Homo sapiens: one gene and its partners. The protein of the gene in region 3 interacts with the protein of the main gene of each other region in a pairwise test. Each region holds a gene or a part of one and is shown on either strand. Other genes may lie near its edges.

Region 1 (3,649 bases), on a different chromosome or scaffold from region 3:
TATATACAGTTCTGTTACCTCTGATTGCTTCTTTAAGACAATGTTATTAGCATATTAGTAAAATTACATTCTCAATATGCATTATCAAATAATCAACTGGTTTTAAAAAGATTTATATATAAAATAAAAAATCAAGTAAAGTTCAAATGATATCTTTTCAAAAAATTTTCTTAAAACTATATAAATTAAGGAAAGTCAAAAGGCTTAAAAACAAAAGGTATAAAATCATCCAGAAATTTTGTCACAATGTAACGTTTTAAGCACCATATTAATATCACCACTAAAAATAATGCTACCACCCTCCCCTGAAATTCATTAATTCAAGAATTCACAGTTCCCCTTTCCTTCTGCCAGAGCATATCGTCATCCAGAGTATGGCATGGGTCTGAGGTTATTAAGCAAACACACTTATCACCTCCTACCTCATCTGCTGCCTTCATTATTGCATTAGCAATCTTTGGATCAAGACCATAATCCTGGTTTACTTCAGCGGCCGCTCGCTTCAAGATGCCAAAAGCTTTAATAACTGGGGTCTAAAATTAATCAGAAAAATATTTCAAATTTACAATTTTACTTAAGCATGGAAGTTTATTATTTTGGCAGATGCAAAAGCTATACATAAAACAATAACAATAAAACAGTAACACTATAGCTCTAAAATGTTTCGGTTATAGAGAAAGATTATAGACAGGAATTCATGAACCAAGAATCAACATTATCATAGATCTATTTGTTTAAGGAACCAAATAAAAACAAATACATTGACTCTTCATATATATATGTGTGTACGTCTCCCACATACATATACACACATATTCACACGAATACAATCCTATGCACAAATACACACAATAAATTATATGTGTTTATTTCATATACTATAAATAAAAACAAATTTAGTACTCAATCTTTTCACCAGCAAGAACCATTATTTTCTCTTACTGGATCCCACGTTACATTATAATTGTTTCCTTCCCCTCTTAAAAAAATAAATAAATAAGGGATATATTTAACTGCCAATCAGTATGAGACTACCAGTGACTGACTGGGTTATCATTTCACCCCAAGGCCAAAAAGCAATCTATTCTACTTAGCTAGTAAAGCCTTAATACTCAGTAACTCCCTGGACATTTCTCTCAGAAGAATTATTTTTTTAAACCCAAGATTCTCCAGACCTAAAGGTGACAGCTTCCGATATATATAAAACCCCATTAATGCAGATATTTTCATTGTCTATCCCAAATCACCTCACCAAGCTTGAAAAGGATAAACTGAAATGAAAACCTAGTTTTTATAAGACAAGTGAATTGTGAGTTCTTGTCAAAATTAATAATACAGATTGTTGTATAGATCCCACACCAGGTTTGAATGGGGAAAGAGTAGAAGGGAGAAAGGGAAGAAAGGAAGAGAATGATGAATGTATAAGAGAGAACCTGCTATCTCTGGAATCAAAGTAGAAAAAGCCAAGAAAAGTAAGAAATAAGACACATTAAAAACATAAACCTGGACCAGAGTAAGTATAAGCTGAGGGTCAAATAGAAAAGGAAAACCAGAAAATTTGAAATTTCAATTTTAAGTAACTAAAATTAAAACATTAGAAACGTTTGACTCAAACGAAATGAGGACAGATGGCACACAGGATTAGAAACTTAAAAACTTTAAACACAAAAACAAATGGGAATTTAAATCTCCACAGTAACAAACACTGAGGTAGTGGGCTGAACCACTACCAAGGGCAAAGGTGAATGCCAATCAACGCTGGCCATCTGAATGGAGTGAATGACCCCCAGTGTTTATGGACCATAAAAATAAAAAAGGGTCATTCACAGCAGAAAGAGGTTCAACGAACACCATAAAATGGCAAAATGTATCACTAGAGAGAAAAGACAGGTCACTTTATTCTTAATTTATTCACATTAGATGTTCATAATCTTTTTAGCTTTGTTTTCCTCTGGACCTCAAGTAAAAAGGGTTGAGTTTAATCATACTACTCAGTTTAGAGTACATACAGACTGTTTTACACATAATAAAGTTCAGAAAGTATGACAAAATCGAGACCCCAGGTGTCTGCCTTTCACAGGTGTGCAATCCCAATGGCTGTGCTGTCTCTGGAGCAGCAGCAGCAGGAACCATGCCCCACCAGAACCACAAAACATGCTGGTGACACAGATCAATGAAAACGGCAGCCATGCTCACTCCCACCAACACTAGCTGGGGCTGACCTCCTCCTTAGTCTCTGGAGTTGAATAATATGAGATTATTTTAGGATTGGTCACTACCCTTTTTCACCTAACCACGTAGTCAAACTATGTTTACCTCACCACCAAGAAGGCTGTAGATGGCAATGACAAAGATATTCTCATCAAAGATTCAGCTGCCTGTTGTAAAGTTCTATATACCTGTCAAGAGGCAGTCTTGAAGGCTTAGGAATGACTTAAAATTATTGAAAATAAAAGCATATTTATAAGATAAGTGTTAAACAATATCTCACAGGATGAAGCCTATCTACTTCTAGGCTTACTAGCCTATCCTGCATTGACTATTTTTCATACTCCGGTTGGGCTCCCGTAGAATATGTTATGCATTTCTCAATTCTTTTCACACTTTAACATCTCTGAAATCAAGATGTATCTTGTAATCAATGGTAAGTCACAACCTTAATTGGTAGCATTTTTCTTTCTTAGTGGTGCCTATTGGTGCATCTTCTAATTAATGGCATCTTAAATTTAATTGAATGTGGTAGAAAGTTTTCTCATCATTTAATCATTCATATGGAATTGAATAAATACTTATATATTATCTATTATATGTCAGACATGGTTAAGAGTAATACTTTGATGTGTTTGTGTACTATACACTTTTTAGGAAACTGAAACCAAAATACAAAGTGTAATTTTAAAAAATCTCAGTTTTAAATTAGTGGGGGAAAAAAGAATGAGTATTGAAATAAAAATATTTACAAACTGTAGAACCCTAGTAAAAATCTGTAAATACCCAGCAAGAGTGAAAAGACAATCATTTAGTTCTGCCAAATAAAAATCCAAAATAACTATTCACAATAGCAAAGACATGAAATCAACCCAAATGTCCATCAATAAAGGATAAAGAAAAAGTTGTATATATCCACCATGGAATATTATGCAACCATAAAAAAGAATGAGATCATGTCCTTTGCAGAGATATGGATGGAGCTAGAAGCTGTGACCCTCAGCATACTAACAGAGGAACAGAAAACCAAACCCGCATGTTCTCACTTGTAAGTGGGAGCTGAACAATGAGAACATATGGACACAAGGAGGGGAACAAAGCACACAGGGGCCTGTGGGCGGAGGGGGAGCAGCAGAAAAAATAGCTAATGCCGGGTTTTAATATCTAGGTGATGGGTTGAGAGGTGCAGCAAACCACCATGGCACACATTTACCTATGCAACAAAACTGCATATCCTGCATGTGTATCCCGGAACTTAAAATTAAATTAATTTTTTTTTTTTTGAGACGGAGTCTCACTCTGTCGCCAGGCTGGAGTGCAGTGGTGCGATCTCAGCTCACTGCAACCTCCGCCTCCCGGGTTCAAGCAATTCTCCTGTCTCAGCCTCCAGAGTAATTGGGACTACAGGCGCGCGCCACCGTGCCCGGCTAATTTTTGTATT
Region 2 (3,749 bases), about 75 Mb from region 3:
GCTCCTTTCTCTTCACCAGACCGTCACTGTGCACCTGTTGAGCAGGCTCCCACGGCAGCCACCCCTTCCCAGCCCCCCATGCCGGAGGGCCTGTCCGCAGCACCCTCCCTTCCCCCACGTACACACATCCTTCCAGTGGGGCCGGGCACAGTAGACAGTGGTGTGCAGGCTTGGAATGCACTTGCACACACACCCCTAGAAGGGCCCAGTCCCCAAAGGTGAGGAAAACCTGTTCTGAGGAATCTGCCTAGTGAGCGAATTCTGTTCTGAGGCCCTTCCACCGTCGCAGGAGTGGGGCCCAGTGTGCGTCAGAGATACCCACAAGGGGGGCAGAGAGAGGGAGAGGGTGAAGCAGGAGGAGGCTGAAAACTTCACGTTTCTTTTTTCCATTTTAGTGACAAGAGTCACACCCAGCCTTTACATAAACATGGCCAAGGAGCCTCTCTGTCTAAGCTTACTTCCCTTGTGGCCGCCCAGCCTCTCCTCCGGGTGACCCTGACACGCTGGGCAGGCTCATGAGGGGCAAACATACAGACCCTGCAAAGATTAGCTGGGCCATCTGACAACACCCATGCCTCCCGCCGGCCTCCATGCGCTACCCTGCATTTATCTCCCGCCTTCCTCATACCAAATCCCCTCCGCAGCCCCACCGCCACTTAAGCACACAGACGGCAGGCACGCACACACAGCCTGCTTGCGGCTGGCCTCTTGGGTCTGAGGCCCACACTGCCCTTGTCACGCCACCTCCCTCCCCACATGTGTTTTCTGACCAGTTTGCCTCCCAGCTCAGCAGCCCAGACAGGCTCCTACAAACAACGTCACAAAAGAATCCTGTGGAGAATGTTGCAAACACACAACCTTCCCCTCGCTTGGCTGCCCATGATCCCATAAACACAACTGGCGCATTCCACCTCGAGCCCCTCACACCAGTGCCAACTGACCCACAGGCCCCTGAGACATACCCCGGGGTTCCTCGCTCCTCTCATGATCTTTGGGATCTGAGTTCTAGACGCGCAGCCCCCATGCAACGCGCTCATCACAGACACGCAAACCCATCCATCGCCCTCTTCACCACTGGACCACACCTCAGCAGGGCCACAGAAATGGGACCCAGACGTGACGCCTTCTGACTCAAAGGCCCACAACCGCCCCCTCCAAAAGGGCACATACACTGCATCCTGGCACCCTCCGCAACACATACAGCATGCCAGCTCTGCAGAAAACAGTTCATAAACAGGTCATAGGTGCAGCACAAGACACACATGCGAGAAAACACATGCTGTAGAAAACATACAGCCCCACATCGAACAAACTCTGCACCCAGCATGCTGTGCCCTGCTCAGAATACCCATCTGTCACCCAAAGCCACAGGGCTCGTCTTGTAACTCTGCCCCACAACACTGGACACCCTTCCTGGCTTTCTATCTCCATGGCCCAGGGAGGGCCCTACCCAGACCCCTGGCTGCCAGCAAACGGTGGTGCCCAGGAGAGGTTTACCTTGCCCCACCACACAGCACAAGACACACGATCTCCAAGACTCACAGCCACAACCCTGCCCCGACGGCGCGGCGGTTCCGGGGCCCCAGCTCGCCCTGCGCACCCCGCACACCCCAACTCTGGGGCGCTCGGCGGCCCACCCCTCCCCCTCTCTGCCTGGCTCCTACGCCATCACCCTCCCAGCAGCTTGCAGCGCTTGCCCGGGCTCACACCCGCCCCACCCCACCCCCAATCTGCCCCACGGGGGGAGGGGGCCATTAGGCTGCAGAATTAACCCTTCAAAGAGGGAGTGAGCACCTCCCCTTCCACGGCCCCAGGCGATCGCGTCCCACGGCCGCCCCTCGCTCGGACGCCATACCAGGGCCCCCTTAGTCGCCCCCCAGCGTCGTGCGCGCCCGGGGGCGGGGCCAGGCTCAGCCCCCGACCCCTGCGCCCCCAGGTCAACCCCAAAGGAGAGCGGTCTGGGCGCGGGGCGCGGTCGGGGCTCCCGCAGCGCCGGGCAGCGGAGAGGGGGCCTGGCAGTTGGCTCCGGTCCGCCCTGGCCCTGCCCAGTTCGCCCCAGGGCCCACCTGACTGCGATGGCGCCGCGTCCGCCAGGCCCGGCTCATCACCGTGGCCGCCCCCGGCCGCTCCGGTTTTGCCCGCCTCCAGCTCCGGCTCCGGCTCCAGCTCCGGCCCTGGCCCCCCCAGCGCCTGGCCCCGGCCCGGCCCCGCTGCCGCCGCCGCCGCCGCCGCTGACATCATCGGCTCCCCCCGCCCCGGTCCTACCCCCACCCCCACCCCCGGAAACAGTCCCCCCCCAGCGCCGCCGCCGCCGCCGCCGAGAGGAGGCCGGCGCAGCGCAGCCGACACCGACACAAAGCTCCGAGCGCCCGACGGCCTTCCCCAGGACTGACCCCCGCGGCATGACACTGCGCCGCGCTGGGCCACCGGGCGGGTGGACACCGAGCGGGGCGCGGGCCGGGCTGCAGCATCCCGGCAGGGGCGCAAGACCACCGACCCCCAGGGAAAGGGCTCCCTCCGCCCTTCCTCCTGCACGCCCTTCACTCAGCGGTGCACACTGCCTGAAAGCATAACACACAGGCTCTCAGGGTGCAGACATGACATGGCAGACTCATAATCAGGCCCGGTGGGACTCACAGACCCAGGGTCGGCACACTCAAAGAGGGCCAGCCCTGGACACACACACACACCCTCTCCAGGAATGCGCAGGAAAGCTCAGCAGGCCGCGGAAAAAGAAGGCCCTGGCCCTGCATACGGGGCACACACGAACGACCACCAGCGCAAATGAACACATGAAGCTGGCTGGGTACTTTGTCCCCACCAGCAGATAGATCCACATCTGTATACTTGAACATAAATGCAGAGGCCTTGGTGTCGGCCTCTGGGGACAGCATCAACAAAACACCAGGTGGAAGCACACACAGAAAAAACACATTCCTGAAACTCCACAGGGACAATCCCAAGAACTCCTCCCTGGTGCTGGAAAATTAAAAACTAAGGAGATGGAGGAGCCAGGGTTCACAGCTCCTTGCCTTAAAACCTCTCTGAGGCTGGGCGCGGTGGCTCACGCCTGTAATCCCAGCACTTTGGGAGGCCGAGGTGGGCGGATCACGAGGTCAGGAGATCGAGACCATCCTGGCTAACACGGTGAAACCCTGTCTCTACTAAAAATACAAAAAAATTAGCCGGGCGTGGTGGCGGGCGCCTGTGGTCCCAGCTACTCGGGAGGCTGAGGCAGGAGAATGGCGTGAACCTGGGAGGCGGAGCTTGCAGTGAGCCGAGATCTCGCCACTGCACTCCAGCCTGGGCGACAGAGACAGACTCCGTCTCAAAAAAAAAACAACAACAAAAAAACCTCTCTGAAACCATGCAAGATATAAATAAACAAATTAATGTAAAGCCACAGAGCTAGCCATAAAAAGAATAAAAGAATCAGACAAACTTTGGAGTCATGGAGACATAAATAGAAAAGAAGCAGAGTTGGGCTGGGCACGGTGGCTCATGCCTGTAATTCCACCACTTTGGGAGGCGGGGGGTGGTGGGGTGGATCACTTGAGGTAAGGAGTTCAAGACCAGCATGGCCAACATGGAGAAACCCCATCTCTACGAAAAATAAAAAATTAGCGGGGTGTGGTGGCACATGCCTGTAATCCCAGGTACTTGGGAGGATGAGGTAGGAGAATTGCTTGAACCCAGGAGGTGGAGGTTGCGGTGAGCCGAGATTGCACGCACCACTGCACTCCAGCCTG
Region 3 (3,649 bases):
GGGTTTCGCCATGTTGGCCAGGCTGGCCTTCAACTACTGACCTCAGGTGATCCACCTGCCTTGGCCTCCCAAAGTGCTGGGATGACAGGCATGAGCCACGGCGCCCGGCCTGTCAACGTAATTTTAAGAGTTAAGTGTGAAAGAATGTCTATCATATTCATCCTTGCCATTAGTTTTCCTTCACTCCTGACATTCCTAGTTTCCTTCCTTCTGTTGTGTCTAAAGTACCTCCTTTATCAGTTCTTTTAGATCCAGTCTGCTGGTGACAAACTTTTCCTTCATCTGAGAATGTCTTTATTCACTCTCATTCCTGAAGAATATTTTTACTGAATGTATAATTATGGGTTGACAGTTTTTTGCTTTCAGTACTTGAAAAATATTATGCCACTTCCTTCTGAGGAGAAATCTGATGACAGCTGCTGCTGAGAACCCACTACCGCTCCAGTCACTGTCCCCTGTGGGCTGTGCATCGCTCTCTCTGTGTGCTTTCAACAGTTTTTGTCTTTAGGCCGGGCGCAGTGGCTCACGCCTGTAATTCCAGCACTTTGGGAGGCCAGCGCAAGTGGATCACCTGAGGCCAGAAGTTCGAGACCAGCCTGGCCAACATGGTGAAACCCTGTCTCTACTAACAATACAAACGCCACCAGCTGGGCATGGTGGCACATGCCTGTAACCCTAGCTACTTTGGAGGCTGAGGCATGAGAATCGCTCGAACCCAGGAGGCAGAGGTTGCAGTGAGCCGAGATTGTGCCACTGCACTCCAGCCTGGGCAACAGAGACTCCGTCTCAAAAAACAAGAAATTCATTTCAAATATAAAAGAGAGAGGTAGGTAAAAAGAAAAAGGGATGAAAAAGTTATACCACGCGAATGCTAATCAAAAGAAAGCCCGAGTGGATTAATTAATATCAGACAAGGTAGACTTCAGAACAAAGAATGTTGCCAGACAAAGAGGAAGATTACGTAACAATATAAGGGTCAATTATCCTAAAAAAAAAAAACCCTAAATGTATACACATCTAACAACAAAGATACAAAATATATGAAACAAAAACAAAGAATCGTGATTTAAAAAATAAAGATCTATATTAAAACAGGAATAGAAAGAAACTTCCTTAACCTCCCTCCACTACCCCCACCACAAAAAACCTTCAGCAAAAACTCAACCTAAAAAAGTGAAATGCTGAAAGTTCTTCCTCTGGGATTAGGGAGAAAGACAGCTATTATCAACATCATACCGGAGAGTTTAGCTAGGGGCGATAATGCAAGAAGAAGTAAACAATATCAGCATTGGAAAAGAAAAATAAAACCTCCCTTATTTTATTTTACTTTATTTTTTTTGAGATGGAGTCTCGCTCTGTTACCTAGGCTGGAGTGTAGTGGTGCAATCTCGGCTCACTGCAACCTCCGCCTCCTGGGTTCAAGTGATTCTCCTGCCTCAGCCTCCCAAGTGGCTGGGATTACAGGTGCCTGCCACCACGCCCAGCTAATTTTTTTGTATTTTTAGTAGAGACGGGGTTTCACCATGTTGGCCAGGCTGGTCTCAAACTCCCGACCTCAGGTGATCCACCCACCTCGGCCTCCCAAAGTGCTGGGATTACAGGCGTGAGCCACTGCGCCCGGCAAAAACCTCCCCTATTTGAGACAATCTGTGCCAGTGGAGTGTCCTGTCTGGCCCCTCCCTTTCTTTTCCTGCCTTAGGCCTGCAGATGGGGCCTGCCTCCCCTACACTAAGGGGGGCTGTGGCTCCAGCAGGGTGAAGGCATCTGTGTGGAAGGCAGCCAGGCTGGGCTGTCAAGCTCGGTGATGCTGGGGAGGCATCCAGGCAGGAGAGGGGCCTGCAAATAGGGGAAGGGGCCACAGCAGCAATGGGGGATTGGTTACACCAAGAGGACTCGATCAAAGTAACTGTGTTAGTGATAATGGGCGAGCCAGGTTTCTCATTATTGGGAAAGGAAGTTAGAATAATGAAAAAGAAAGCTAGAATGCTAGAATGAACCTTTTGATGTTGGACTAACCACAATGGAATAGATTAGCCTATGAGTTTGTCTTGAAATTAAGACCTTCCATTCACCAAAGACACCAGTGAAGGAATAAAAGGCAAGCCATAGACTGGGAGAAGATATTTGCAACACATATAACCAACGCTAGGCTCATATTCAGCATAAAATACCCTAAAAAAATCTATGACAAAGGGCAGATGATCCAATAAACAATGGGCAAAAGACATGGCCTGGAGCTCCAAAAGAGGGGCTGTCGAAAGGCCAATTCTATGGACTGAGCTCTGCCCCCCAAAATTTACGGGTTGAAGCTCTCACCCCGAACATGACTGTATTTGGAGACAGCGCCTCTGAGGAGGCAGCTAAGGTTACATGAGGTCCTAAGGCTGGGGCCCTGGACTGTTGTCCTTACAAGAAGAGGAAGAGTCGGGCGCGGTGTCTCACGCCTGTCATCCCAGCACTTTGGGAGGCTCAGGTAGGCAGATCACGAGGTCAGGAGTTCGGGACCAGCCTGACCAACGTGGTGAAACCTCATCTCTACTAAAAATACAAAAATTAGCCGGGCGTGGTGGCATGCACCTGTAATCCCAGCTACTCAGGAGGCTGAGGCAGGAGAATCGCTTGAACTTGGGAGGCAGAGGCTGCAATGAGCCAAAATCATGCCACTGCACTCCACCCTGGGCAACAGAGCAAGACTCTGTCCCAAAAAAAAAAAAAAAAAAGAGGAAGAGACACCAGGAGTGAGCATGCAGCGGGGGAGGAGTCACGTGAGCACGCAGGGGGAGAGTCCACATGAGCACGCAGGGGAGAGGGTGCCGTCTGCAAGCCACAGAGAGGCCTCAGGAGGAACCCACCCTGCCGGCAACCTGATCTCTGACATCCAGACTCCAGAAGTGAGAAAATAAAACCGTTGTTTAAGCCACTCAGGCTGTGGTGTTGAGTTACGGCAGCCCTAGCCAATCATACGCCAATGCACACAGGAAGAGATGTTCAATCCCACGAATCTCATGAATTTGCAAATTAAACCAAAATAGGATGTGCTACGTGTCCACTAGAGGGAACAGAAGGAGCCGCTGACCACGTAAGTGTTGGCGCGCATGCAGCACCACGGCTACCTCGCACGATGTGGATGGATGCTTTGGAGAAGAATCTGGCATTATCAAGTGAAACACAGTGTAGGTCTGAAGACGCCAGACAGAAGCACAGGTGCCACAGAATTCCATTCACACCAAAACAGGGAGCGCTGACTGCAGTGAGCAGCCAGGGCACGTGGGCTCCGGAGGGAGCACAAGGAATTCCATTCACACCAAAACAGGGAGCGCTGACTGCAGTGAGGAGCCAGGGCACGTGGGCTCCGGAGGGAGCACAAGGAATTCCATTCACACCAAAACAGGGAGCGCTGACTGCAGTGAGGAGCCAGGGCACGTGGGCTCCGGAGGGAGCGCGAGGAATTCCATTCACACCAAAACAGGGAGCGCTGACTGCAGTGAGGAGCCAGGGCACGTGGGCTCTGGAGGTAGCTCCAGGAATTCCATTCACACCAAAACAGGGAGGGCTGACTGCAGTGAGGAGCCAGGGCACGTGGGCTCTGGAGGGAGCACAAGGAATTCCATTCACACCAAAACAGGGAACGCTGACTGCAGTGAGGAGC

What was found.
Region 1: the proteins of CCDC57 (region 3) and FH interact in binary tests that used the Homo sapiens proteins (3 or more experiments, as listed by UniProt).
Region 2: the proteins of CCDC57 (region 3) and ZBTB4 interact in binary tests that used the Homo sapiens proteins (3 or more experiments, as listed by UniProt).

What each region holds. Positions count from the first base shown.
Region 1 is NC_000001.11:241,513,181-241,516,829, forward strand, and holds part of FH (fumarate hydratase, mitochondrial), read right to left. Parts: intron 534-3,649; coding exon 423-533; intron 1-422. UniProt on the Homo sapiens protein: Catalyzes the reversible stereospecific interconversion of fumarate to L-malate. Experiments in other species have demonstrated that specific isoforms of this protein act in defined pathways and favor one direction over the other.
Region 2 is NC_000017.11:7,477,390-7,481,138, forward strand, and holds the start of ZBTB4 (zinc finger and BTB domain-containing protein 4), read right to left. Parts: upstream 2,243-3,749; 5' UTR 2,067-2,242; intron 2,044-2,066; exon of another isoform or gene 1,498-2,043; intron 1-1,497. UniProt on the Homo sapiens protein: Transcriptional repressor with bimodal DNA-binding specificity. Represses transcription in a methyl-CpG-dependent manner.
Region 3 is NC_000017.11:82,167,806-82,171,454, forward strand, and holds part of CCDC57 (coiled-coil domain-containing protein 57), read right to left. Parts: intron 1-3,649. UniProt on the Homo sapiens protein: Pleiotropic regulator of centriole duplication, mitosis, and ciliogenesis. Critical interface between centrosome and microtubule-mediated cellular processes. Centriole duplication protein required for recruitment of CEP63, CEP152, and PLK4 to the centrosome.